Homo sapiens: one gene and its partners. The protein of the gene in region 2 purifies or fractionates together with the protein of the main gene of each other region. This does not show direct contact. Each region holds a gene or a part of one and is shown on either strand. Other genes may lie near its edges. The genes, in order: CERK, ALPK2, SPRYD3, NAA15, NAA16, FBXO45 and C2CD4B.

Region 1 (3,500 bases), on a different chromosome or scaffold from region 2:
CCGGAAGGCGTCTCCTGCCTCGGGGCTCTCATCCTGGTGGGAGGGACAGAGCTGCAGCCACTGCCTGTGGTGATGGGCTGAGGGCAAAGGGGGGGGCCAGGCATGCAGGGGGGCTGCCCACCACCCCACCCCAGCAGGCAGGGACAGGGAGGGGGCATCCCAGGGGCATTCTAGGCAGAGCCACACTGGGCTCAACAAAGGGCAGTCGGGAGAATGGCACAACCCAAACCGCTTCCTAAAATTCTCGCGGCTTCTCTAATTTTCTCGGTATTCCCTTTCTTAATAAGCCTTAGATAAATACCTCACTTTGCCATTTCTTAGGTTTTAATTTTCAAGCCACACTAGTTTTTAATTTCATTAAATCTTTTCAAGCTTCGTAAAGTTTGCCAAATCACTATTTCTTTCTCTCATAAGGGTTAAGATTTTAGTATCAGGAATTACTCGATTTAATTTGATACAGATTTATCTGAAAGCGAACTGTAAAGAGGCGGGAAAGTCGACCGGGCAGCGAGAATGGCACACCTCATGGTCTACATATTTTCTTCTTTCTTTCTTTTCTTTTTTTTTTGAGACAGGGTCTGGCTGTCGCTCCAGCTGCAGTGCAGTGGCCTGATCTCTGCTCACTGCAGCCTCCACCTTCTGTGCTCAAGGGCTCCTCCTGCCTCAGCATCCCGAGTAACTGGGGTGCCCGGCTAATTTTGTTTTTAATTTCTGTGGAGATGGGGTCTCCCTATGTCGCCCAGGCTGAAATTCTACTTTTCTTTTTTTTTGAGACAGAGGTCTCGCTCTGTTGCCCAGGCTGAAGTGCAGTGGCACGATCTCAGCTCACTGCAGCCTCTGCCTCCCGGGTTCAAGCAATTCTCCTGCCTCAGCCCCCCGAGGAGCTGTGACTATAGGTGTGCACCACCATGCCTGACTTATTTTGTATTTTTAGTAGAGACAGGGTTTCACCATGTTGGCGAGGCTGGTCTTGAACTCCTGACCTCAGGTGATCCACCTGCCTTGACCTCCCAAAGTGCTGGGATTACAGGCGTGAGCCACTGCCCCTGGCCAATTCTATGTATTTTTAAAGTTCTCCTTTTCCAGCGTTTAAAAGCTGGTGACGTCGCACCCACTGCCTGATGTGTGCAGACTGCAACTCTTGTGTCTGAACTGGCACCAGCCTTCATTTCTGGTTCATTCTAAACTCTGTGGTCGGGTAACAGGTCACCGCCGCCTGGCCCGAGGCCCCAGCAGCAGCCCCGGGAGCCTGGAGGACCTGCATGTTCCGAAGCCCACCCAGACCTGCCGTGTTGGATGCTCTGGGGGGTCCCCGCAGCCTGGGTTCTACCAAGCCCTCCAGAGGATGCAGGTGCCCACCACAGTCTGAGGACCACTGGGCTCAAGAAAGAGTGAGGCAGGATGCGGGCAACCTCTTTGTGCCTGTTTTCTCCGCTATAAAGTGGGGCAGGAGCACCTGCTGGGGTGAGAAGAGCACTGTGGAGAATGAAAGCTTTTGGGCTTCAGGGAGTGCGGCGTGGCATTCGCTCCCACTCCTCCTCCTCTGTGCCCACTGCGGCCGAGCCGCAGGAAGGCAGGATCTTGCCTGTTTTGTTCATGGACACGTCCCTGCCTCAAAAACCAGGCCCGGCATAGAGCAGGGGCTCAACAAATACGTGCTGAGTGTATCTCACTTGTATGGCTAGCTACGGTGTAACCCCAACAAAACCACGCAACCTTGTTGAATGAAGTAAAGGATACCTGTGCCTGAAGTTACAGAAGAGCTTCCACACAGATATCCCAGGCTGAATTTCTGCACAAAGTTCTTGCCACTTTGACTAATAAGCTCAGAGTGATTATAAAACTATTGTTTTACAGGCCAGGCATGGTTGCTCATGGTTGTAATCCCAGCACTTTGGGAGGCCGAGGTGGGCAGATTGCTTGAGCTCAGGAGTTTGAGACCAGCCTGGGCAACAGGGCAAAACCCTTTGTCTACAAAAATATACAAAAAAAAAAAAAATTAGCTGGTCACGGTGGCATGTGCCTGTAGTCCCAGCTACTCGGGAGGCTGAGGTGGGAGAATCACTTGAGCCTGGGAGGTCAAGGCTGCAGTGAACCGTGATCGTGCTACTGCACTCCAGCCTGAGTGACGGAGGAAGACTGTGTCTCAAAAAAATTTTTAAAAAATATATTTTAAAAACTATTTTTTTTCCAATTAATACTTCCACTTGAACAGTTTGGGGTGGCCTCTGTCACCTGCCTACCAGATGTGAGAGGCTGGTGGCCTGGCGTCTTGGGGTTCCAGCACCTGGGGTTCTGGAGTGAACTGCGTCCGTCATGGTGTCTACTCTGTGGCTTATGCTTGGGTCCAGGGGGCAGGATCTGGTTTAGAGCAATCCAGGTTCCAGTCCAGACCCTGCCACGTTCTGGCCCCGGCACATTTCATGAGGCCCTTAGCTTCCCGTCTGTGAGCAGGTGGGGGCCCACCTCTGACGGTGCTCAGTGGATTCAGTCAGGTAACATCTGTGAAGGCAGTCGGGGCACGACCAGCGGGGAGCGAGTCTGCATTATTCTGAGTTACCTGAAAAGTCGTATCTGGCAAGACCCAACCACCGTTTCTTCTCACTGTCCTTGATGATGTCCCCGTAGAAGCCGTAGCCCAGCAGGGACACGGAGTAGCGAAGGAGTGTGCTGTTGTGGTGGACTGAGGACACATCCATGGCCAGCGAGTCCCCTGTGGGAGAGAACGGCCGTGAGGGAAGGCAGCCCCCCTCCAGCCCCGCCCCATCCACTCCATCCCCTTCAATAGCACTTTGCAAACGTGGGAGTTACTTTTAAAAAGTGTGAAACAAACAGAACGCATTCAGTGCAAGGATTCTCTCTCTTGGGGTGTTGGATGCCATATTTTTTATTCAAATGACTGAACTCCACTCAAATTTCTAAAACAGGCTCGGGGAGCTATCCTGTGGGGACTGAACAAGAGTGTATCCGTGAGGCTCATGAAATATCTTTAACTGAAAGGACGGTGGTTTTAGAATGAAGAAAAAGTACATGGCATTTTAAAATACAAAATCAAGCCGAGTGCAGTGGTTCACGCCTGTAATCCCAGCACGTGGGGAGGCCGAGGCGGGCAGATCACCTGAGGTCAGGAATTTGAGACCAGGCTGGCCAGAATGGTGAAACCTTGTCTCTACTAAACATATAAAAATTAGCCAGGCATGGTGGCGTGTGCCTGAAATCCCAGCTAGTGGCGAGGCTCAGGCAGGAGAATCGCTTGAACCCGGGAGGCGGAGGTTGCAGTGAGCCGAGATCATACCACTGTACTCCAGCCTGGGCCACACACAGAGTGAGACTCTGTTTCAAAAAAAATAAAATAGGCCAGGTGCGGTGGCCCGCGCCTGTAAGTAACCCCAGCACTTTGGGAGGCTGAGGTGGGTGGATCACCTGAGGTCAGGAGTTCGAGACCAGCCTGGTCAACATGGTGAAACCCCGTCTCTACTAAAAATACAAAATGAGCTGGG
Region 2 (3,500 bases):
GATACGTTACTCTGGGTTGAATGCTGCCAAAAAGAAAAACTGAAAATGCAAACATGTAAAGCAACTTGGGAGAACGTAATCACGTCATCTTAGGGTTGGCGAAAACGAAAGAATAAACACCTGACCTACATCAAATAAAACATTTAAACATGTTTCAAGCCCTTATTGGGATTTCCGCCTATGCACACCCACCTGGCATGGGCCAAATAGACAAAACTGATCAGGAGACTTCAGACATCAGCTCGAAGAGACAGGCAGCAAGTTGAAGAGAAGCTCAATTCCGAGAGTTCAGTTCTGGTTACACTGCACCCTCCCTCTCAAGGGCCAGCCCTTCCACTGCAATCCTCATGTCCTGGCTGCACAGCCCACCTTGATTTTCACTTGATTTTCAATCCTGCTCTTAGATAACCAGGCCCCTGCTCTTAAACACGCTCATTTGCTCCTCAACCCCTAGTTTAAGACCTTCCTGAGTCCAGCGGTTCTTAAACTTTCAAGTGCAACAGAATCTAAAGAGCTTGTTAAAATAAAGGTTCCTGGGCTCCATCCCCAGAGTTTCTGATTCTGAAGTTTCCAAGAATTTGCATTTCTTCCTTGTTCCCAGGTGATGCTGATGGCGTGGCCCAGGGGCCACTCTGAGAACCACTGCTGTAGCCATTTCTTCGGCCTGCAGTTCCTGAAGAAAACCTATTTGTGCTTATTCTTTTCAACCACCAAACTTTCCTTACTTCTCAGGGGGTGCCAGAGACACAGATACAGTGTGCCAGTGCTGTAAACATAAAAGGTTAACCCATCAGGTGCCCTGCAGGCAAGCAGTTTACAGTCTAGCTGCTGGGGGTGACACTGAGTGTGGGGACAATATGCTGAGGCTAATGGTCTCTAGTTTTTAGGGGGCTTTTTTTTTTTTTCAGCTGAGGGTATCAGGGAAGCCTTCAAAGAGAAACCAGCATTTGAGCTAGGGGTTTGAAAACCTGGCGGGGTTTCTGAACAGATTGAGATGGAAAGTGGTCCTTCTATGTAAAGGAAATCCAGAAAAGCAAACTAAAAACATGGAGGGCAGAAAGAGAAAGAATGAATATGGAAATCAGAAATTAGTGTGGTTGGGCTACGCTTTTCACACTTCTCCTCCCCCGCCTTCTTGATGATGAAAGAATTGTCAAGAGTTAGATGGTTTTGATTAAATCATTTAATCTTCAATCCATTACTTCTGTCGGTAACTTGATTGTAACTTGATGTCCAACATAGAGATCTGGAATGGAGAGCCAAATGATAGGAATTTCAGGCACTGTGGGCCAATGAGGAGAGGGTATGCCTTCTAGAAGCAACAAAGAAATCAACTTGGCTGGGCTTGGTGGCTCATGCCTGTTAATTCCAGCATTTTGGGAGGCCAAGGTGGGTGGATCACTTGAGGTCGGGACTTTGAGACCAGCTTGGCCAACATGGTGAAACCCTGCCTCTACTGAAAATACAAAATTAGCTGGGCATGCTGGCACACGCCTGTAATCCCAGCCACTTGAGAGGCTGAGGCAGGAGAATCGCTTGAACCCGGGAGGCAGAGGTTGCAGTGACCCGAAATCGTGCCATTGCACTCCAGCCTGGGCAACAAGAGTGAAACTCTGTCTCAAAAAGAAAAAAAAAAAAAAAAGAAAGAAATCAACTCAAACTACCTAAATCAGTAACAGGGATTTATTGCTCATACCATGGAAGAGTCCAGGACTTTGGTCAGGACCCTGCTGTTTCCTGCATTTCTGGAAGCTCTGCTCATCTCTGTTTTGGTTTTATCAGGCCAGCTTTAGCACGGTCTCAAGATAGCTATTGGCCTTCGCTGAGGTTCACATGCTTTCCTTTTTCTGTGGATGACGGAGTGAACAACCTAAGCTTTGCACTGACTTGGTCACCCCTGAACTACTTTTTGGAGAGTGCCACATGTGATTGGCTTAAACTTTGGTTAATGACTCAATCAGTGACCAAGAGCACCACAGTTTAGACCAATCAGAGCCAACAAAGCAGGAAGGGTGAGGAATCGCCAGCCGAGTCCCCAGGCTGCTGAGTGATGGAAGAGGCTTGATTAGGAGGACAAGCGAATGGCCACTTTAGGAGATTTTAGATATTTTGGAGAAAGGTCTCTGAAATCTTACCACTTCTTCCCTTAGTTATAAAGTTAGCCATGGGGAGCATTTATACTTTAAAGATTTAGGATATTACTGCTAAAGGTAAGCCAGAAAAAATTTAAAAAAAAATTAGGATGGGCATGCTTTAAAGTTCAGCCCAGACAAGTTAAAATGTTCTTCCACAGAACAGTCCTGCCTCAGAAATGGAATGAACCAGCCAGGCACGGTGGCGTGAGCCGCCTGTAATCCCAGAATTTTGGGAGGCCGAGATGGGAGGATCACTTGAGGTCAGGAGTTTGAGACCAGCCTGGCCAACATGGCAAAACTCTGTCTCTACTAAAAATACAAAAATTAGCTAGGCATGGTGGTGCATGCCTGTAATTCCAGCTACTCAGGAGGCTGAGGAGGGAGGATTGCTTGAGCCCAGGAGGCAGGGGTTGCAGTGAGCCGAGATTGTACCAATGCACTCCAGCGGGGTGAAAGAGGGAGACCCTATCTCAAAAGAAATAAAAAGAAATGGAATGAACCGTTGGCTGCAGTACTGCACCCTACGGCCCTTTTTATTGGATGTGATGTTCCTTATCTCTAAGGCACACTTTATTTACTAGAACAAGATTAGATAAAGAACCATTAAAAATCTTCTGTATTGGGAGTCTGAGGTGGGTGGGGGGATTGCTTGAGCCCAGGAGTATGAGAACAGCCTGGGCAACATAGTGGGACCCCATCTCTATTAAAAAAAAATCTTCTGGAAATAAGGCAAGTGGAGGCATTATATGAAAAGTGTTCCCCTAAGACACTCTGACTGGCTGGGTTGAAGGATGAGGGTAGAAGGTGGCAGAGATCAGACTACCACTCTCCTGCGAAACTTCCCTGTCCTCACACCACTGCTTTTTTCTGACTGGACTTGCTGACAGGTGGTTAGTTCAGCATAATAAGTTCTAGCTCAGTTAACTACACTCGGGCTCAGTTAACTACACTCAGGGTTGGTCTTATTTCTGTCGGGGGGCGGGGAGTGAGACAGAAGATAGCCTAAGATTTTCCAGGTTCTCCCCTATATTGTCTGATGCCAGAAATTCCACAGCATTTCACCTCTTGGTCACATTGAAAGTAAACATTCTCCCAAGAGGGATTAGTTGGAGCGGCTTTGGAGTTTTCATTACAGGGGAGTGAGGGTGGGAACATAAGGAGCCTGGGCAAATGTGGAGGATAAGAGGAAAACGAGCCAGAGAGGGGCTTTCTTTACTGTGAAATGTTTGTGATGACATTGACGACACATTCCTAGACTGGACAGAGCAGTCGGCCCATGACATTCAACTTCAAACCAAAGTGATTTTAATCAGTTAACTCAAGGAAGTGGGTCCGATTACAGCACTGTCACACTTTGTATGTTTA
Region 3 (4,190 bases), on a different chromosome or scaffold from region 2:
GTGATCCCTTCCCCTACCCAGCTGGATCCCCTCCTTGCTGGATGAGGACAGAGCCACCCAGTGACAGAGGCAGAGGTGAGTGCAGGGTGAAGCAGCACACACTGCTCCACTCAGAAAGGCCTCTGGGCGGGTGGATCACTTGAAGTCAGGAGTTCAAGACCTGCCTGGCCAACATGGTGAAACCCTGTCTCTACCAAAAATATAAAAAATCAGCCGTATGTGGTGGTGCACGCCTGTAATCCCAGCTACTTGGGAAGCTGAGGCAGGAGAATCGCTTGAACCCAGGAGGCGGAGGTTGCAGTGAGCTGAGATCACGCCACTGCACTGTAGCCTGGGTGACAGAGCGAGACTCTGTCTTAAAAAAAAAAAAGAAAAAGAAAGGCCTCTGGAGTCAAGAGCATCGCCCTTCCCTGTGCAGTGCACAGTCCCCTTCTCTGAAAAAATAAAAGTTAAAAAAAAAAAACCCTTTCCTCTCTAAGATCTGGAACAGAGAAGAAAATGTGGAAGCATTCTCCTGAACTCACCTTAAAGTATCTCCATCTACAAGGATATGTTTGAACCTCTCCTGATATCGGAAAGCTCGGACCTCTCGAATCTCCCGGATCCGCCGGCGCCAATTCAGAAACCGGTAGTGCAGGTTGAGGTCATCCATCTTGTTCATGAGAACAAACCTGCCAAGGGGAGAAGGGGATTGAGGAGAAAGCAGGGCCCTAGGTAAAGCACCTCAGCCTCTGTGACCCAGAAGGTAGAGAAGGCACTGGCCTTGAGGCCAGCTGCCCAGATTGACCTCAACAACCCTCATCTTCTTTCTTCCATTCAACAAACATTTACCAAGCACCTACTCTGTGTGCTTTTCTCCGTGCTAGGGATGGAGCTGTGAACAAGATGGACAGGATTCCCATTCTCACAGGCTGGGAGGTGGACACGACAGGCAATAAACAGACATAATTTCAGGCAGTGGAGAAAAGAACAGGGTGATATGATAAAGAATCTGGAGGCAGTGGATAGAGTGGACAGAGGCGGTCTCTCTGAGGAGGTGACATTTGAGTTGAAAAGGAGCTAGGCATGACAAGCCAGGCATATTCCAGGCAGGAAGGGCAGCCACAGGTCCTTGGATGGAAGAGAGCTGGCATGGTAGAGAAACAGAAAAAGGCATGGACAGCTGGTATATAGGGAATGTGAGGGAGAATGTACAAGATGAGAATAAGGCAGGAGTCAGATCATGGCCCTACAGACAATGAAATGGTAAGGACTCTGGATTTTATTCCAAGATGGAAATTTCTGGAGGGTTGTAAGCAAGGAAATGCCATGATTGGCTGGGTATGATGGCTCATGCCTGCAATCCCAGCACCTTGGGAGGCTGAGGCAGGAGGATCGCTTGAGGCCAGGACCCAGACCAGCCTGGGCAACGTAGTGAGACCTCATCTCTACTAAAAATTAAAACAATGAGCCAGGTGTGGCAGCATGCACCTGTAGTCCCAGCTACTAAGGAGACTGAAGATGGCTTGAGTCTGGCAGGTCAAGGCTGCAGTCAGTTCTGATTGTGCCACTACATTCCAGCCTGGCTGACAGAGCAAGACCCTGTCTCAAAAAAAAAAGAAAAAAAAATGCCATGATCCTGGGCCTGGTGGCTCACGTCTGTGATCCCAGCACTTTGGGAGGCCGAAGTGGGAGGATCACAAGGTCAGAAGTTGAAGACCAGCCTGACCAACATGGTGAAACCCCATCTCTACTAAAAATACAAACAAATTAGCCAGGCGTGGTGGTGCGCACCTGTAATCCCAGCTACTCAGGAGGCTGAGGCAAGAGAATTGCTTGAACCTGGGAGGTGGAGTTTGCAGTGAGCCGAGATCGTCCCACTGCACTCCAGCCTGGGTGACAGAAACTCCATCTCAAAAAAAAAAAAAAAAGCCACGATCTTAATCAGTTCCTAAAGATCATTCCAGCTGCTGGTTGGAGAACTGATCACAAGAGGATCAAGAACAGATGTGGGCAAACAATTCAGACGTTGTTGCAGCAGTTCACATGAGAAATGACATCCACTAAGTCGGTAGCAGCGCCGATGGATGGGGGTGGGATGATCCAGGTATTTAAACAACCATCAGTCCCTACATATAAATGAATGAATGATTTTTCCTGGGAGCCAAAAGTGAGAAAGAGGTGAAGTACTCTTCTCTTCCCATTCCCTAAACACTGGGACAGGGGTTTTCTTGAGGCCTGACATTGCCTTGCACACGGTAGGTGCTTAGTAAGCCTTGGCTGGGCTGAATTTGATCCCAATACGCAAATTACGACTCTTATGCAGTAGCTACAACCCACCACGTGGCCCAGAAGAGTAGGCACCTGTGGGACAGACAGCCCTAAGATTCCACTCCCGGGCACTCAGCCAGGACTCAACCCCAGGTAGATGCTGGTTGCGCAGACCCCACAGTCTTGGCACCGGCGAGTGGCGGCCCTACTGGGCCCTGTCTCCTCCCCGGGCACGGCCTGATCACTGAGATGAGACCCGGGAGCAGCCGGGCCCCAGCCCATCCGTGTGCCTACGCCCAGTCTCCCCAGGCCCTGCACTGGGCCGAGGGTGCAGCAACAGAAGAAGCCCAGTGACCAGAGCGCAGGGCCCCGCCCCTGGCCCCAGAGCCCCCGCCCAGGACCCCCGCCTTCCGCTTCAGGCTCCGGGGAGATACGAGGCCTCCGGGACCCCGCCCCCGATCCCCGCCTACCGGGGCCGCCGCGTCCTCCTCATCCATAGGCCTCTCAGCTCCGCACACAAGCTCTTCGGCCGCCGCCACCACACACATCCGGGTCCCCGCCTTTCCTTCACTCCTAGAGGCCCGCCCCGTCCCCCATCTAAGCCAATCAGCAACGGCCTCTGACGACGGGCACCTGCAGGAGCCAATCGGAAGGCGCAGGCAGGGTGTGGGGCGCGGCCCGGTGCCCTGGGTACCCAGCTCAGGGCCCCGGTCTGGTCAACCCGGCTGTTGCTGGGGTGAGCGAAGGCGACGTGGCAGCGCGGACGCTGCTGGGTGCCTGGGCGCCGCTGAGGCGGACAGGGGGCGGCTCTTGAGCGGCGCCGGGGAGACGGGACGGGCGGAGAAGGTGGCCACGCTCGCACAAACGTTGCGAGTATTACTTGAGCCCTCCTTCCGCGCTGGACTGAAATAAAAGCTTTACCGGAATGTCCATTTAATCCACGGTGCAGCCTTATGAAATAAATCTTATCTCCTTTTTACGGATGGGCCGAAGGCTGGCCTCGATAGCCTGCGCGCTTAACTGTTATGCTGTGTACCCTCCCGAGCTCTGTTTCATGGCACCGCTCGCTCATTATTGGCAAGAACATTCCATTCCAGGAGGAGAGAACTGGGGATGCAGAAGGCACAGTGGCACGAAGCGGCATTCTGTGGAGGAACACAGGGCTTTGGTAGGCTGAAGGAAAGTTAGACTGGGGTTAGAATGTGAAGGGACGAAGACACGAATATTTATTGAACACCTACTAGGGAGTGCCTACCTGCCATTCTGGGGGGTTGGACTCCTAGATGAGGACTTCCTTGCTCCCTTCCCATCACCATATCTCTCTCTTCTGGACGGAAAAGATTCCTCTCCTCTGTAGCACCTCATTTATAATACTTTTTTTTTTGAGACGGAGTCTCACTCTGTCGCCCAGGCTGGAGTGCAGTGGCGCGATCTCGGCTCACTGCAAGCTCTGCCTCCTGGGTTCACGCCATTCTCCTGCCTCAGCCTCCCAAGTAGCTGGGACTACAGGCGCCCGCCACCACGCCAAGCTAATTTTTTTTGTATTTTTGGTAGAGACGGGGTTTCACCGTGTTAGCCAGGATGGTCTCGATCTCCTGACCTCTTGATCCGCCCACCTCGGCCTCCCAAAGTGTTGGGATTACAGGCGTGAGCCACCGCCCCCCGCCATTTATAACACTTATTACCGTCTTGCTTTCGTTATTGGAGTTACTTGTGTGTGTAGACCCGTCTCTGCTAGACTGTGAGCTCCTTCAGACCCCAGACTATTCTATTCTTATCACACTAGGTACTCTAACGTGTTGAGTGCCAGGAAAGCCATCAGCTCGCATACCGTGAATAGTGCCCACTCGGCATAACGGCAATGGGTGATAGGAATAGATGAGATGGGAAACAGAGAAACCCGGATTAGAGCCCCAATTCTGTGTGACTAAAAGGTCAAG
Region 4 (4,222 bases), on a different chromosome or scaffold from region 2:
TTACTAAGTAACAGCTTAAAAATGAATTATAAGCTTGTTCTTAGTTTTATAAAGTTAAGGTTAAAATACTGGCCATATTTCAAACTGAAACATAGTTTCCTGTATATATGATTTTTCTCAAACTTTTGAAGAGAGATCACAGAATTTAAGGAAACTCCAGGATTTGACTGTTAAAAACCTTATTTATGACCCCGGTGAAGGGCGAGGACAATCAATATAGCAGCTACAAAACCCAAGTTTATATTGGGAAACATGTATCTCAACTCACACCTTTCAGGGACAGTTAAGAGAAGTTTGAAAATTAAAATATCTTTGCAAATAAATTTAAAACAGTAAAAAACACGCACATATTGTTTAATAATTCATGATGCAAAGAATGCTACAGAGTGAAATCAGGATTTGGAAAGAGGTAATCAAAAACCAAAGGTTAAAAGTGGCTCATATAACTTGAAAATTTTTAGATCAATGGAATGCCACTTTGAAAAAGTTTTACGGTCAGCTGTTAATGAAATGACTTACATTTTTGGAAGGACTCCTATTCGGTATGTAGTCTGACCTCGCCTACTCGAGTAGTTCCCTCTAGTATCCTTGCCAGTCTTTGGCTTCTAAGATCTGAGAATTTCTGGGGATGGGGAGTTCGAGTCACAATATTAAGAACTAGTTTGAAGCCAGCTCCAGGGTAGTCTGTCTTTAAGTCTCCACTACTCCGCTCCAAGGTGACTCATAAGGTCGGTCCGTCAACTCTGCATTATATGGCCTCAACAACGAAATTAAAACACATACTTTAACCTCCAGAGCCTCCTTTGGCAGTGCAAATATGTCACTTCGGATCTGACTAACTACCTTTCCAGGCTGATCTTAAGCAACATTCACCAAATTACCGATACGACAGCCAGGCCCATTTCATCGGTCAAGCTCTTTCACGATTTCCAGACTCTGTTAAGCCCCTTTCTCCCCAGGGCTGTTAACAAGTCTCCACTGCGGTGAAGCTTTTTTCATTTTCCACTCCGCCTCTGCTCCTTAAATTAGGCATTTCGTCCATAATCAACTACAGCGCTTCTCAAACACCTACACCTGTATTTTAGCACTTTGGGCTCAAACGATGATCACACAGTGTGCGAGACTCTTTCCAAGGAATGAAAGGTCGATCTAGCAGGAAGGCGCCAGAGAGGCTGTTTTTGATGAGGAGGCGGTCTGAACCGTACTTGCCTAGCCTCCCGTAGCTCCGCGGGCGCTTCGAGGGTACCACGCACTGAAATGATGGGCGGGGCCTGCCCCGACCCTCCCGGCCTCCACAGGCAGGCCAGCCTCCAGGTTTCCCGGCAAGCTCCGAAACCCAGAGGAGGTGGGGAAAGGAGGTCACCGCGCCTGCGTGTTAGGAAGCGTGACCCGGGTGGGAAAACCCTCCGCGTCCGCCATTTTGGCTGCCTCTGTCGGTCTGTTCAGTTACCACGTGAACCGCCGACGGAGACCCGTAGTGGGGGAGGCGGCGGCAGCGTTAAGTGAGAAAGGAAAAAAGACAACGAGGAAAAAGGAGGTGTCCGGGTAGGGCAACGCGGCGACACCCGAGGCCTGGTGGTGGCGGCGGATCGAGATATTCAAGGCTGAAGCAGCTACGGAACGGCAGCGGCGGCGGTCGGACAAACTGACTGACCGAGCCGGGTGGTGGCGGGAGCAGCGGGAGCAGCCGGAACGATGCCGGCCGTGAGCCTCCCGCCCAAGGAGAATGCGCTCTTCAAGCGGATCTTGGTAAGTGTGAGGCTCCGGGCAAGCGGTGGGGAGGATTTAGCCGGTAACCGGGCCTGTCACCCCTAACCTCGGCCCGGCGGGCACTGAGCCACTCCCGCCCGGGACCCCGCCTTCATAGCTCTCGTCAGGCCGAATGCATTGCTTTGCTCCCTCTCTGTGGTTCCTACTATGGCCCGCGCGCCAGGGACCACAGGCTTCTTCATTCCATCCCCACGCTTGAGGCCCTGGTTCCGGACTAGGCCCCGACCTCCCGGCTTCTAGACTGCCGGTTCTCATTCTCCCCGATCTGGGGGAGAAGAGGCCCGGCCTTTGGCGGGCAAGTGGGCGACACCGGCAGGAGTCGCGGCCCGGTTGGTGTGGGAACCCTGCTGGCAGGTCGGGGTGGCACCCTTGGAAGGAACAGGTGGTGCGGATGCAGCAGGCTCATTCATTGCCTAAACGCGGTTCTCCCTCCATCATCTGTCCCTCCCTCTTCCTCCTCTCTTGGGATTCACCTGTCTCCGCCCGGCCCGGGGTCACCCAATGACCTGAGAGGAGGGAAAGAAGGAGTTCAGAGAAGGAAAGAAAGCTTTTCAAACGACTACCTCCTTGTAGTCAGTTGCATACTGGAGTCTTCAGCTCCTCTGCCTCCGTTGTTCTCGTTTCTGGAGTAGGGATGAGGCATTTATTTCTTAGTTTCCGAGCGGGAAACAGCCCCACCCCGTCACTCTTCTCGGGAGGTGGGGCCCATTGCGAGGGGGCGGTTCGGTAGGAAGTAAAAAGTTGAGTCTTTAGTTGAAACGTTGCAGACCTAGACTTTTCTTATACACTGAAGTATATTAACACATGCAAAAACTTACCAGAGAAATGAGAATATAAGAACTTTTGAGATGGATTTTGTTGACGCTAGCTCAGACTTATTCCCTACGGTTCAAATGTGTGCAGTTTGTATTTTTTTAAACCATAAATGCATTGATGTTTGCAGGGACTGTTTACATTGTAAAATATGTCCTGTAGCCTTGGAGCTATAATTAACACATTGTAGCACATTTTTTGTTTGGCATTTAGTATGTGGGTTCCCCCTTTCACGCAAACGTTTCCTTATGATAGAATTAACTGTATTTGCCAAATTTAAGACTTTTAAAATTTGGGATGTGTGTGTGAAAGTGTTAGCCTTTTCCCCCGCAGTTATAATTTATTTCACCTGTTTGAAAAGTAGAACAACTCTGGGGATTCAGTTTTTCTAGAAATGAATAATCATCCATTTGAACTAACTTTGATTTTACAAAAGTGTCCATATGCCCTACAGATTTAGTGAATTCATTTTGAAAAACATTAGAAAGTCACATGCAGTGTCGCAAAACTGTTACCTTGAAATTCTTACTGGAATTTTGTTTTGTTTTAAGACTAAGAGTGTAGGTGGAGCTGTAAAATAGTTTTAGGAAAAAAGTTACTTTTAAACCCTTAAAAAGACTAATTGGTGTGCAGGTAGAACTGTAACATAAGTTTAGAATAGCAATTTATCTTTAATCTCTTTTTCACAATTCTTTATTTTGAAAAAAATGAAACTGAAAAGTTGAGAGAACAAGGAACACTCATAAACCTTTACTTATATTTATTTGCCATATATGCTTTCTCTCTCCCTATGTATATGTATATATACATTTGTATAAAAGTAAGTTGTAGATGTAAAATTTATCTCTAGGCTGGGCACGGTGTCTCATGCCTGTAATCCCAGCACTTTGGGAGGCTGAGGCAGATGGATCACTTGAGGTCAGGAGTTCGAGACCAGGCTGGCCAACGTAGTGAAATCCTGTCTCTACTGAAAATACAAAAATTAGTCAGGCATGGTGGTGTTCGCCTGTAGTCCCAGCTACTAGGGTGGCTGAGGCACAAGAATCGCTTGAACCCGGGAGGTGGAGGTTGCAGTTCCAGCCTTGGCAACAGAGGAAGACTGTCTCAAAACAAAAACAAAAAACTTCATCTCTAAATACTTAAGCAAGCATCTCCTAAGAATAAGGACATCGTCTTGTATACTTATAACAATCATTCTCTAATATTGTCTAATATCTGGTTCATATGGAGATTTTCTCAAGTGTTAGCACTTTTTTTTGTTTGTTTGTTTGAGACGGAGTCTCGCTCTGTCGCCCAGGCTGGAATGCAGTGGCGCGATCTCGGCTCACTGCAAGCTCCGCCTCCTGGGTTGACGCCATTCTCCTGCCTTAGCCTCCCAAGTAGCTGGGACTACAGGTGCCCGCCACCACGCCTGGCTAATTTTTTGTATTTTTTAGTAGAGACGGGGTTTCACCATGTTAGCCAGGATGGTCTCAATCTCCTGACCTAGTGATCCGCCCGCCTCGGCCTTCCGAAGTGCTGCTATTACAGGCGTCAGCCACCGCACCCGGCCAAGTGTTAGCACTTTTTAAATAAATCAAACTTTTAATTTTGAGAAGACTGTAATAATCACGTAGTTTAAGGAATAATACAGTGCACT
Region 5 (3,500 bases), on a different chromosome or scaffold from region 2:
GTGTTGGAGCGGGGTTTGGGCCACAGGATCACCATGTTCTGAATACCATAGAGTTTGAAAATCATTCTTCTTGTGTAATTCCCTTCTTGTGGATAATTCAGAGAATTATTTCATCCTAAACCATCTTTTATTAACTTCCTTACATGTTTTTTGTTGCCACTACCATCATCCAGTGTTGTGCTGTTGAAATGTGAACTGATGTTAATTAGCCTAAGTATAATTTGTTGGAATAAACTTGCTATCAAAAATGAAGTCTGTTCCAATATTGAATAAAGTGATTAGTGATTTTTAAATTATGTATTTGTCTTTATTAAGGTAGATTGAGTGTTTTTGTGTGGTTGTAAATCAGATTGATGATTGATTAGAATTGACCTTAGGTAAGAGCTGTGGAACTGCTATGGTAGATTTAATTCCATTAAGACTCATGTCTGCTTTGTAATTTTTTTTTTTTTTTTTAAGACAGAGTCTCGCTCTTGTTGCCCAGGCTGGAGTACAGTGGCACAATCTTGGCTCACTGCAACCTCTGCCTCCTGGGTTCAAGCAGTGCTCCTGCCTCAGCCTTCCAAGTAGCTGGGATTACAGGCACATGCCACCATGCCTAGCTAATTTTTGTTTAGTAGAGACGGGGTTTTGCTGTGTTGGCCAGGCTGGTCTCGAACTCTTGACCTCAGATGATCCACCCGCCTCAGCCTCCCTGAGTGCTGGGATTACAGGCGTGAGCCATTGCACCTGGCCTGCTTTGTTAATTTTTTCAGCAGAATAATATCAACCACTTTTACAGAGTCTTGTGAAGGGCAGAAACCATTTTAGCAACTCTGAAACTAAGGAATTTCAGAAAAGGACTTGGGCTGCTAAGCTTTAAGTAAATATTTAAATGTAGTTTTACTTTTTCTACTTGGAGAGAAGTTCAAACTGTGAGATTAAAAAGATGAATTGGAGCCATAGTAATCCTTCAGATCTCAACTATTAAAGTACTATTAAGAGAATAAGAGAATAATTTTGTGTCATTTGTAAATAGAGTTTAAAAATTATTTTTCAGAGACTTTGGCTATGAAAGGATTAACACTGAACTGTTTAGGAAAAAAAGAAGAAGCTTATGAGTTTGTTCGTAAAGGACTTCGTAATGATGTCAAGAGTCATGTCTGTATCCTTTTGCAGTAGTTAAATAGTTTATGTTTTAGCTAGTTTTTTCCTAATTCAAATTAAATTTGTACTATGAAAATTCCAAACCTACGTAGAAGAGAGAATTTAATGAACTCTGTGTATCCATTACTCAACTATAATCATTATCAACATTTTGTAATACTAGTTTCTTTTTTGCTTGTGCCCCTCCTCCTATATTAGTTTCATTTGTTCCCTACCCCGTGTTTATTTATTGGAATATTTTAAAGGAAATCTCTATAAAATGTGCTTACTTCTGTTGTGCTTAGTGTTGGAGAAAAGTTACTTTGGTAATTGTGACTTGAAACCCATTTTTTTCTTAAACATAATTAACTGGGTAATACTTTCCTGTTATTCCAAATACTGACTTTTAGTTAATCATATGTTAAAATTTGTGTGTCTTAAACTTTCTTTTAGACATTTGAGAAGAAAAACTTAAACTTATTTTAAAACAGATTTTACTTAATATATAAGTATGATATTGGTTCTTGAGCTTGGTTTCTGTTAACACAGAGACATAGCTGTTACTTAATTTGATCTTTATAATTGTGTTTTTCTTTGGGTAATATCCCAGTGTGTAAAAAAAAATTTTTTTTTGTTTTTTGGGGGGAGGGAGTCTCACTCTGTCACCCAGGCTAGAGTGCAGTGGCATGATCTAGGCTTACTGCAACCTCCACCTCTTGGGTTTAAGCGATTCTCCCACCTCAGCCTCCCAGGTAGCTGGGACTACAGGTGTGTGCCACCATGCCTGGCTACTTTTTGTACTTTCAGTAGAGATGGAGTTTCGCCATGTTGGTCAGGCTGATCTCGAACTCCTGACCTCAGGTGATCCACCCTCCTCGGCCTCCCAAAGTGCTGGGATTACAGGTGTGAGCCACCATGCCTGGCCAAAAAAAAATTTTTTTTTAAAGGGTGGAGCATTGAAATTGATTTTCATTTTTTTTTTTTTGCTTATCTGTATGTTTATCTGCATTTTTTTTCACATATTGCCCTTGCATTTTAGTTTGTTAACATGTAATTCACTTAGCCACGTACTGGTATTGAACACGAATAATCTTAGTAGTGTTTTCACATATTTAGCTTAGAGTTTTCTCAAATTACTAAATACTTATTTCTTTATCCCAGTGCTTACCCCAGAGTGAAGAGAAGGGCATGTAAGTATGATAGTTTTGTGGGGCTTTTGGCTCCAAGATATGCTAATACTTTAATTTATAAGAAATACAACTTATTTTTTGTGGCCTTTAATATAACTAGGGAAGTAGGTGATAGTTACACATTACTTTAGAATTGGTTGACTAAATTTGTTTCAAAAAGTAGTTGCAGTTTTTGTATATATTCTGTTTCAAGACATCATGATGAAGAATAGGTGAATGTTGAAGTTGCTGGGGTAGGAAAGTGATGGGATAGAGGGTAGAAAATGTGAAGAATTTTTGCTAAGAATTCTTTAAGGTTACTTAAAATATTACAGAAAATTTCAAACATGTACACAAGTAGAGAGAACAGAATAATGACCCCTTTCCCATGTGGCCATTACCCAGGTTCAGCAATTTGACAATTATCAACCCAGCCTGCTCTGGTTTCGTCTTTAACTTCCCCTCACCATTCCCCTCCCCCAGACTCCAGATCATTCTGAACAAATCCCAGGCAAAATACCATTTCCTTAATGTAACTTTTATATTAGATATGTATCATAGAATATTCTAGTGTCTGTGTATGTCTTTGTTTCCTTAACTTAATAGGTTGGCATGTATATGGACTCTTGCAGCGTTCTGATAAAAAATATGATGAAGCTATAAAATGTTACCGAAATGCCCTCAAATTAGATAAAGATAACCTGCAAATTTTGAGGGATCTCTCACTGTTGCAGATCCAAATGAGAGACCTTGAAGGTTACCGAGTAAGTACTTCATTCTTAAATGTACATGATTTTACAGTAGACAAAATTTAAGAGCGTGTCATTTCAGAATGAGGTGAGCATAAGCCAAAATCAAGTAGATTTGATTGTTCATTAGAAGGTGTATGTCGCTTGGGACCTTCCTTCTCAGTCATAGTTGTGGCACTTTGTACTTGAGTATTCAAAAAGAATAACTGGTGGGGTGTGGTGGCCCACGCCTGTAATCCCAGCAGTTTGGGAGGTTGAGATGGGAGGATCGCTTGAGGCTGGGAGTTAGAAACCAGCCTGGGCAACATAGGCCAGACTCCGTCTCTACAAATAAGAAAATTAGCCCGGTATGGTAGTTTACACCTGCAGTCCCAGCTATCCAGGATGTTGAGGCAGGAGGATCCCTTGAACCTAAGAGTTGAGGCTGCAGTGAGCCATGATTATGCTACTGCACTCC
Region 6 (3,500 bases), on a different chromosome or scaffold from region 2:
TGTGCGTGCTGTGTGCTCAAAGGTGAAGCAGATTTGCAGATTTCACCAGGAGTAATCGTTACTTAGTTTCAACTTCTGTAAAATAGGGATAGTTCCTAGGATTAGTGTGAGGATTAAATGGGATAATACAAATACGACACAACACAAATACCCAACAAAATTAGCTTTTCATTTCTACTTTGTTAATATTTTGTTGGTAGGAGTGGTGGTGATGATGATTTGGAGGTTCTTAGATCCATAAAATGAGGTGTGGGTTAATCTGTGAGGTGGGCAAAGGGAGGAAAAAAGCAGATGTTGGCAGTTACTGTTAACAGGAAATACAGTGAAGGAAAGTAAATGACAATAGTAGGGGTTATAATCAGGTAGAATTAAATTTTGATTGCAAACATTAGGACTTTCTGTTTCCAATTTTGTAGATGCAACATCTTTTTATAAAGGCAAACTAAAAAGATGAAACATCCTTTTTTTTTTTTTGCTTACTTTTCCAAATGGGAAAAAACTGGATATATTCTGCTTCCAGTTTCGTTTAATAATCAGTGCTGCTGTTTTTTATAACAAACAGGTGTTTCAGAGTTGTGAACCACAAATTGTTTAATAAGCCTATTCTATATTCTACATTAGAATTTGTAGCCAGATTGGATTATTCATGATTCCACATTACATGTGGAACTGCTTTGTAAACTTTAAAAGCTGTGTGTCTTACTAAGGTGATTTTTAAAATTGTGGTGAAACATACATATTTATTATTTTAACCATTTGTAAGTATACAATTCAGTGGCATTAAATACATTCACACACCTCTCTCTATACCCAAAACTTTTTCCTCACCCCAACATAATCTCTATTATGTTCATTCCCTATTTCCTTCACTCCCCACCCCTGGTAAACTCTGCTCTACAACTATATATATTTGAGTATTCTAGATACTTTATATAGGTGGAATCATACCATTTAGCCTTTTGTGTCTGGCTCATTTCACTTAGCATAATATTTTCAGGGTCTATCTATGTTGTAGCATATATCAAAATTTCATTTCTGTTTATGGCTGAATAATATTCCATTGTACGGCCGGGCGCGATGGCTCATGCCTGTAATCCCAGCACTTTGGGAGGCTGAGGCAGGTGGATCACGAGGTCAGGAGATGGAGACCATCCTGGCTAACACGGTGAAACCCGTCTCTACTAAAAATACAAAAAATTAGCCGGGCGTGGTGGCGGGCACCTGTAGTCCCAGCTACTGGGGAGGCTGAGGCAGGAGAATGGCATGAACCCGGGAGGCGGAGCTTGCAGTGAGCTGAGATTGCACCACTGCACTCCAGCCTGGGCGACAGAGCAAGACTCCGTCTCAAAAAAAAAAAAAAAAAAAGTTCCGTTGTATGTATAGTATAGTAATTTGAGAAGCTGATTTAGATTGCTCTTTTTGGTAAAATATGCCAAGTTATAGATTTTAGTGTTAACCTTAAGAAAAACCTTTAAACAAAGAGTAAATAAAATCAATCTAGGTAGTGTTCAGGTGGAACATTTAAATTGTAAGTAATTAAGTGTAGATTCCATGTGAGTCTTAAAAACAAAACTATCAAAGTAAGCATTTGTGATGTGTTACCTAGGCTGGAGTGCAGTGGGCAGTGGTGCGATACCAGCTTTGCGCCACCACACCCAGCTAATTTTTGTATTTTTAATAGAGATGGGTTTTCACCATGTTGCCCAGGCTGGTCTTGAACTCCTGGGCTCAAGCAATCCGCCCGCCTCAGCCTCCCAAAGTGCTGGGATTATAGGCATGAGCCACTATGCCCGGCCAGATGTATGTCCTTTTTTTATAGATGTTTCTTCCTGACTAGAAAGCTTCCCTTCTGATTTTTCTAGATAGCTTTCAGGATAATATTCTTAATATTTTCAACTTCTTGATTTGTGTCTTGTTTCTTCTAGCTACACCCTTGGCAGATTTTCTTCTAACCTTTTGATATCTGTTTGCAGATAGGAGAAAGAATTCGAGTCATCTTGGACATGGAAGATAAGACTTTAGCTTTTGAACGTGGATATGAGTTCCTGGGGGTTGCTTTTAGAGGACTTCCAAAGGTCTGCTTATACCCAGCAGTTTCTGCTGTATATGGCAACACAGAAGTGACTTTGGTTTACCTTGGAAAACCTTTGGACGGATGACAGTGGCTTTCTTGTGATGACAGACAGAATGGAGGAGAGATCTGCTTATGGGAAGTAGAACCATGAAGTGACTGTCACACATGCATGTCCAAGAAACATCCTGAAAACACATGAAGTCGTAAACTGGAGAAGCAGCTCTACAGCAGAGATTATCTTCGTGTTTCCTCTTTCTACTGGGCCAGAAAAATCCTCAGGGTTGCAGTTGGTTGAGTGGGCAGTTGACATATGCATGTTGCACCCGATGTTGTCTCTAAGTTAGCAATGTGTTATTTCCAGCTTTAAAGGTGAGATTGTAGAGATGCTGTCAAAGGGATAAGGAAATAGCAAGATTTTTAAGTAGTGTGTTTGTGAAGACTGATCCCATTTTACAACTGCCTGTTCTTTCTCCAGTCCTTTTTTTTCCAGCCAGCTTGACTATTAGAAAAGTATGAAACTGGTTGGGTTTTATTTAATATTTTTAATATATTGAGAAGCATGGTCTGCCTGGACTGCACTTCTCTAAAAGTGAGATATAAAATTGTGCAGCTATTTTAAAAGTTGTATATAATATGTGTGTAAAAAAAAAAAACTGTAAAAAAGAAAGGACAAACAGGTTGTTTTGTTCTAGTTCTAATTTCTTAAAAACCACTACATGGTTACAAAATTGGAATAACATTTGGGGACAACTGGGTTAACTACAAAGAAGAGGATTTTAAGAGGAGATGTGTTGTATTGACTCATTTTGTATTATTTTTGGCTTACAGTTCCCATAGCTGTTAGAGTCTGGTTTGTTTTTGTTTTTACTCTCAAAATCATAGTAAAGATCTCTCAGTCTCCTGGCTAAAGATTGAAGGAAGGCAAATCTATTTCTAATTATACATATATCAGTAAGGATGATCTCAACATAATAGTAATGTGTATCTTTTGGTATCCAGTTTTATTTTTGGCCTTCTAAGAAAGTGTCTCATAACACAGAACATTGCCATTTGCTCTTGTAGGCCTCAAATATGAAAGCTATTAGTCATAGAGCCTAGGAAAAAAAGAATTGATTAATGGTCCTTTTATTTTGTAACCTTATAAATGCTGTAGATATTATCAAAAAAATTTTAATTTCATATTGTTTACATCATGCAACTAATCTAAGCCTCAAACTCGTTATTGGGGCTATAAAGAAAACGTTTACTTACCCAGCTGAAACAGGTTAAGAATATTCTTAATCTCATTATAGATAATTGCCCCCATGGGACTTGAAATACAACACCTTGTGCTGAAAACTTCAGGTTGGCAATATTTGAAGGTTTCGTTGTAGAAGAGTTTAACATTAACTCCTATTTTGACTTACAAATCTTGTTTCTCATCACT
Region 7 (3,443 bases), on a different chromosome or scaffold from region 2:
GAGACAAAACTGTAAACCGAAAATTCCAAAGCAGCATGCGAACCGCAACAATGGTGGCCCCTAGATGTAGGAAGGAAATGAGGAGGGACTGAGGAACTGGAGCAGGGGAGTTCCGCGGCGGCTGGGTGGGTGAAGGCACCTGAAAGGGACGATGCGTGGGCTGAATTACAGAAAATAAACAGGAATTCCTATATAAAGAAAAAGCAGAGAAAAGGCATTTCAGATCACAGGAAGCATCACATGCAAAGCCAAAGAAACAGGAAATTGCTAGTTCCAGCTTCTGCCATTAACTGGCTCTTTTTAACCTTTCTGGAATTTCCTCAGGTCCCTCTGGGATTTCAGTCTTCACATCTCAGAAAATGAAGGTCGGGGGTGGAAAGAAGGAATCTATATTTCGGGAAGGTGCTTTCTAACTGGATACCTCCGTGCTAGAGCAAAAAAAAAGGGGTAGTTTTAAAAACGTCAAGTGTTATTTTAGGGCAGGAGCCAGAAGCCCCATGTTTTGTAACTATCAAGATGACAGGCAGAGCCTGCAGCCATTCAGAGGCTTTCTCCACTTGATCTTAGCCAAAAGACCAAGAAGCGATCAGAAATTTTCTCAACGATTAATTTACCCACTTCACCAGTACTTAGGGCATGGACTGAGCCAGGGCCTATGCTATCAAAAAGAGCACAGTCTAGCAGAGGGAGACAGACAGTAAATAAGTATATAAATAACTGGAAACCATATTGGTCTGCACGCTGCGAGTGCGTGGGGACAGGAAAACAGAAGCTCCCAGGACGTGCAGGTCACGTCCAGGTTACATGCAGGGTGAGTGACGGTTTATCTCCTAGCCAAATTAACTTCCTGTTTCCTCGTCCAGCCTCACCTTCTCCAAGAAGCCAGAAACATTTTCAGCCGCCAATTTTTCCTTGGCAGGACGACAGGGTGCCCTCTCTTCACCTGCAACCTTTCCCAGGCCTTGCCTGGGGCTCCACGCACTCACTGCAAATGCGGGTCCCAGAGCTGACCACAAGGTGCCTGCTCCCGCGACAGCTTCGCGCAGACCTGAGCGCCCAGTGCATGCAGACCTCCCGGCGTCGTGGGAGAGGGTGGCGGGAAGGCGGGCTGTGCAGCACCTCCGGGTTGGGCCGCTGGCGGCTGGGCGGGACTCAGCCTACGGTATAAGAGGGGAGCGCCACTCTCCTGGCCGCAGTACTGAAGGTGGCGCCTCGGCAGCGGGCTAGAGGCCACTGGCACTGAGCTTGCAACCAGATCCAGAGACACTGAAGAAGAGAGAAAGGTCTGAAGCGGGGCTGATTTGTTGTGGGTGCAGGGGAGAGGAAGGCTGGAACTGGTCTGGGGTCTTAAACACGTGGGGGACGTTTACAGGGTCTGGGGGAGGGATCCAGCCGCGTCGAGGGGCTGCAGCAGCTCCAGGCGCCCAAACTCAGCAGCTTCTCTCCCCCGCAGGCGCACCTCTTCCCGCCACTCCTAGCCCCAGCCTCCAAGGATGCGGCTCCTCGAGAAACTCTGTTCCTCGGCCGCAGGCAGCTCCGCGCCGAAGCCCGCCTTCGCCAAAGTGCTCACGCCGAATCGCATCCCCGAATTCTGCATCCCGCCGCGGCTGCCGGCCCCTTGCACGCTCGAGTCTCCAATCCGGGCCGCCGCCGTGCCCCGGCGCTGCGCCGCTGAAAGCGACCTGTGGCCCCGCGCGGCAGACGAGGACGCCGGCCGCACGGACTGGGACCCGCGCTCGCAGGCAGCGCTGTCACTGCCGCACCTGCCCCGTGTGCGCACCACCTACGGCTTCTGCGCGCTGCTCGAGAGCCCGCACACGCGCCGCAAGGAGTCGCTCCTGCTCGGGGGCCCGCCCGCGCCCCGGCCCCGGGCCCACAGCTGCGGCGGCGGCGGAGGCCCGGACGCCCCCCTGGGGACCCTGTGCGGCCCGCGAGGTCCGGGCCCGGCCACCCCCGCGGCCCCCGGCGGTCCCCGCCTGCCCCAGGACGCGCTCGCTGCGGGGCCCCGCCGCTGCCGCCTCCTGCGCGTCCCCGACGGGCTGCTGAGTCGCGCGCTGCGGGCTGGAAGGAGTCGCCGCCTGGCCCGCGTCCGCTCCGTCTCCAGCGGGAACGAGGACGAGGAGCGCCGCGCGGGATCCGAGTCCCCGGCCCGGGCCCCCTCCTCGAGCCCGCTGTCATCCAGGGCCCCGCTTCCTGAGCGCCTGGAGGCCAAGGGCACCGTGGCTCTGGGCCGCGCCGGCGACGCCCTGCGCCTGGCTGCTGAGTACTGTCCGGGAACCCGGCGTCTCCGCCTCCGGCTGCTCCGCGCGGAGAGCCTGTTCGGAGGCGCCCCCGGGCCCCGCGCCGTCCGCTGCCGCCTCAGCCTCGTCCTGCGGCCGCCGGGCACTGCGCGTTGGCAATGCAGCGCTGTGGTGGGGCGCAGCCGCAAGGCCTCCTTTGACCAGGACTTTTGCTTCGACGGCCTCTCGGAAGACGAGGTGCGCCGCCTGGCCGTTCGCGTCAAGGCCCGGGATGAGGGTCGCGGCCGGGATCGGGGCCGCCTGCTGGGCCAGGGTGAGCTGTCCCTGGGCGCCCTCCTGCTGCTCTGAGGGCCCAGCCCTCCCCGGGGCGCTCTGCCCTGGAGACTCCGGACACTGACAGCCGCGTGGTACAGAATAAACGTTATTTATTTTTTTATTTATGATACTGCTTTATTGACGTTTTACTTCCTCACCATCCACATTTGTCATCGTCTATTGGTAAAGAAGAAAAAGATAATGACTCCCTGTTCTGTTCACAGGACCCCCATATCTCTTTCCAGACCATTTTTGCATTCCAAGGAAAAATGGGTTGGCTTGGGACTGGGAGAGAAAGGAAGTACACCCATCTGCATTGTTTTTAATTCCTTCCGGTTTTCTATCAATGTTACAGTTTTTTTTTAATAAAGCAAGTTATTCATTCAGAGTCATGCCCAACGTTACGATTCATATACACAGCTTTACATATTGATGCGGCATAGGTAATATCCTAATTTGTGTTTGCGCACGCGCACACATCAGAGTGAGACACTTGTATTATAAGGATGTATATACCCTGGTGGGAAGAAAATTTTTTTGTAGAAAGTTTTCTTTTGGAAGTGAGTTTTTCAAAAATTGGTGAGGAAAACAGGGAAGTGGAGGACCTTCCAATAGATGGGTTATCTAGGGAATAGCTATTCCTGGGGTCTCTCTCTTCCTTACCTAGGAAATCTTAGAAATCTTTCTTGCCTCTGTAAACAAGATGATACTTTTTGTGGCATTTTCTCACCTAGCTATGTATCTAATTACACACTAATTAGCTTTGCGGTAGGATTTCCTAGATGAGTTAAAAAGTAAGTAGTCAGTTTCTTGAACACTGGGTTCTAGAGAGTGTTTTTAAAAATCCAATTGATTTTCATTTGTTAATTCAACAAATAAACCTAAGTC

What was found.
Region 1: the proteins of ALPK2 (region 2) and CERK purify together in Homo sapiens (affinity purification with mass spectrometry; one large-scale study listed by BioGRID and IntAct). This does not show direct contact.
Region 3: the proteins of ALPK2 (region 2) and SPRYD3 purify together in Homo sapiens (affinity purification with mass spectrometry; one large-scale study listed by BioGRID and IntAct). This does not show direct contact.
Region 4: the proteins of ALPK2 (region 2) and NAA15 purify together in Homo sapiens (affinity purification with mass spectrometry; one large-scale study listed by BioGRID and IntAct). This does not show direct contact.
Region 5: the proteins of ALPK2 (region 2) and NAA16 purify together in Homo sapiens (affinity purification with mass spectrometry; one large-scale study listed by BioGRID and IntAct). This does not show direct contact.
Region 6: the proteins of ALPK2 (region 2) and FBXO45 purify together in Homo sapiens (affinity purification with mass spectrometry; one large-scale study listed by BioGRID and IntAct). This does not show direct contact.
Region 7: the proteins of ALPK2 (region 2) and C2CD4B purify together in Homo sapiens (affinity purification with mass spectrometry; one large-scale study listed by BioGRID and IntAct). This does not show direct contact.

What each region holds. Positions count from the first base shown.
Region 1 is NC_000022.11:46,696,753-46,700,252, forward strand, and holds part of CERK (ceramide kinase), read right to left. Parts: intron 2,714-3,500; coding exon 2,561-2,713; intron 1-2,560. UniProt on the Homo sapiens protein: Catalyzes specifically the phosphorylation of ceramide to form ceramide 1-phosphate.
Region 2 is NC_000018.10:58,622,592-58,626,091, reverse strand, and holds part of ALPK2 (alpha-protein kinase 2), read left to right. Parts: intron 1-3,500.
Region 3 is NC_000012.12:53,076,591-53,080,780, forward strand, and holds the start of SPRYD3 (SPRY domain-containing protein 3), read right to left. Parts: upstream 2,801-4,190; 5' UTR 2,744-2,800; coding exon 2,721-2,743; intron 672-2,720; coding exon 525-671; intron 1-524.
Region 4 is NC_000004.12:139,300,083-139,304,304, forward strand, and holds the start of NAA15 (N-alpha-acetyltransferase 15, NatA auxiliary subunit), read left to right. Parts: upstream 1-1,422; 5' UTR 1,423-1,695; coding exon 1,696-1,749; intron 1,750-2,333; exon of another isoform or gene 2,334-2,469; intron 2,470-4,222. UniProt on the Homo sapiens protein: Auxillary subunit of N-terminal acetyltransferase complexes which display alpha (N-terminal) acetyltransferase (NAT) activity. The NAT activity may be important for vascular, hematopoietic and neuronal growth and development.
Region 5 is NC_000013.11:41,317,767-41,321,266, forward strand, and holds part of NAA16 (N-alpha-acetyltransferase 16, NatA auxiliary subunit), read left to right. Parts: intron 1-1,039; coding exon 1,040-1,144; intron 1,145-2,086; exon of another isoform or gene 2,087-2,315; intron 2,316-2,900; coding exon 2,901-3,058; intron 3,059-3,500. UniProt on the Homo sapiens protein: Auxillary subunit of the N-terminal acetyltransferase A (NatA) complex which displays alpha (N-terminal) acetyltransferase activity.
Region 6 is NC_000003.12:196,582,160-196,585,659, forward strand, and holds part of FBXO45 (F-box/SPRY domain-containing protein 1), read left to right. Parts: intron 1-1,973; coding exon 1,974-2,159; 3' UTR 2,160-3,500. UniProt on the Homo sapiens protein: Component of E3 ubiquitin ligase complex consisting of FBXO45, MYCBP2 and SKP1. Functions in substrate recognition but also plays an important role in assembly of the complex.
Region 7 is NC_000015.10:62,163,035-62,166,477, reverse strand, and holds C2CD4B (C2 calcium-dependent domain-containing protein 4B), read left to right. Parts: upstream 1-1,192; 5' UTR 1,193-1,283; intron 1,284-1,453; 5' UTR 1,454-1,493; coding exon 1,494-2,588; 3' UTR 2,589-2,943; downstream 2,944-3,443.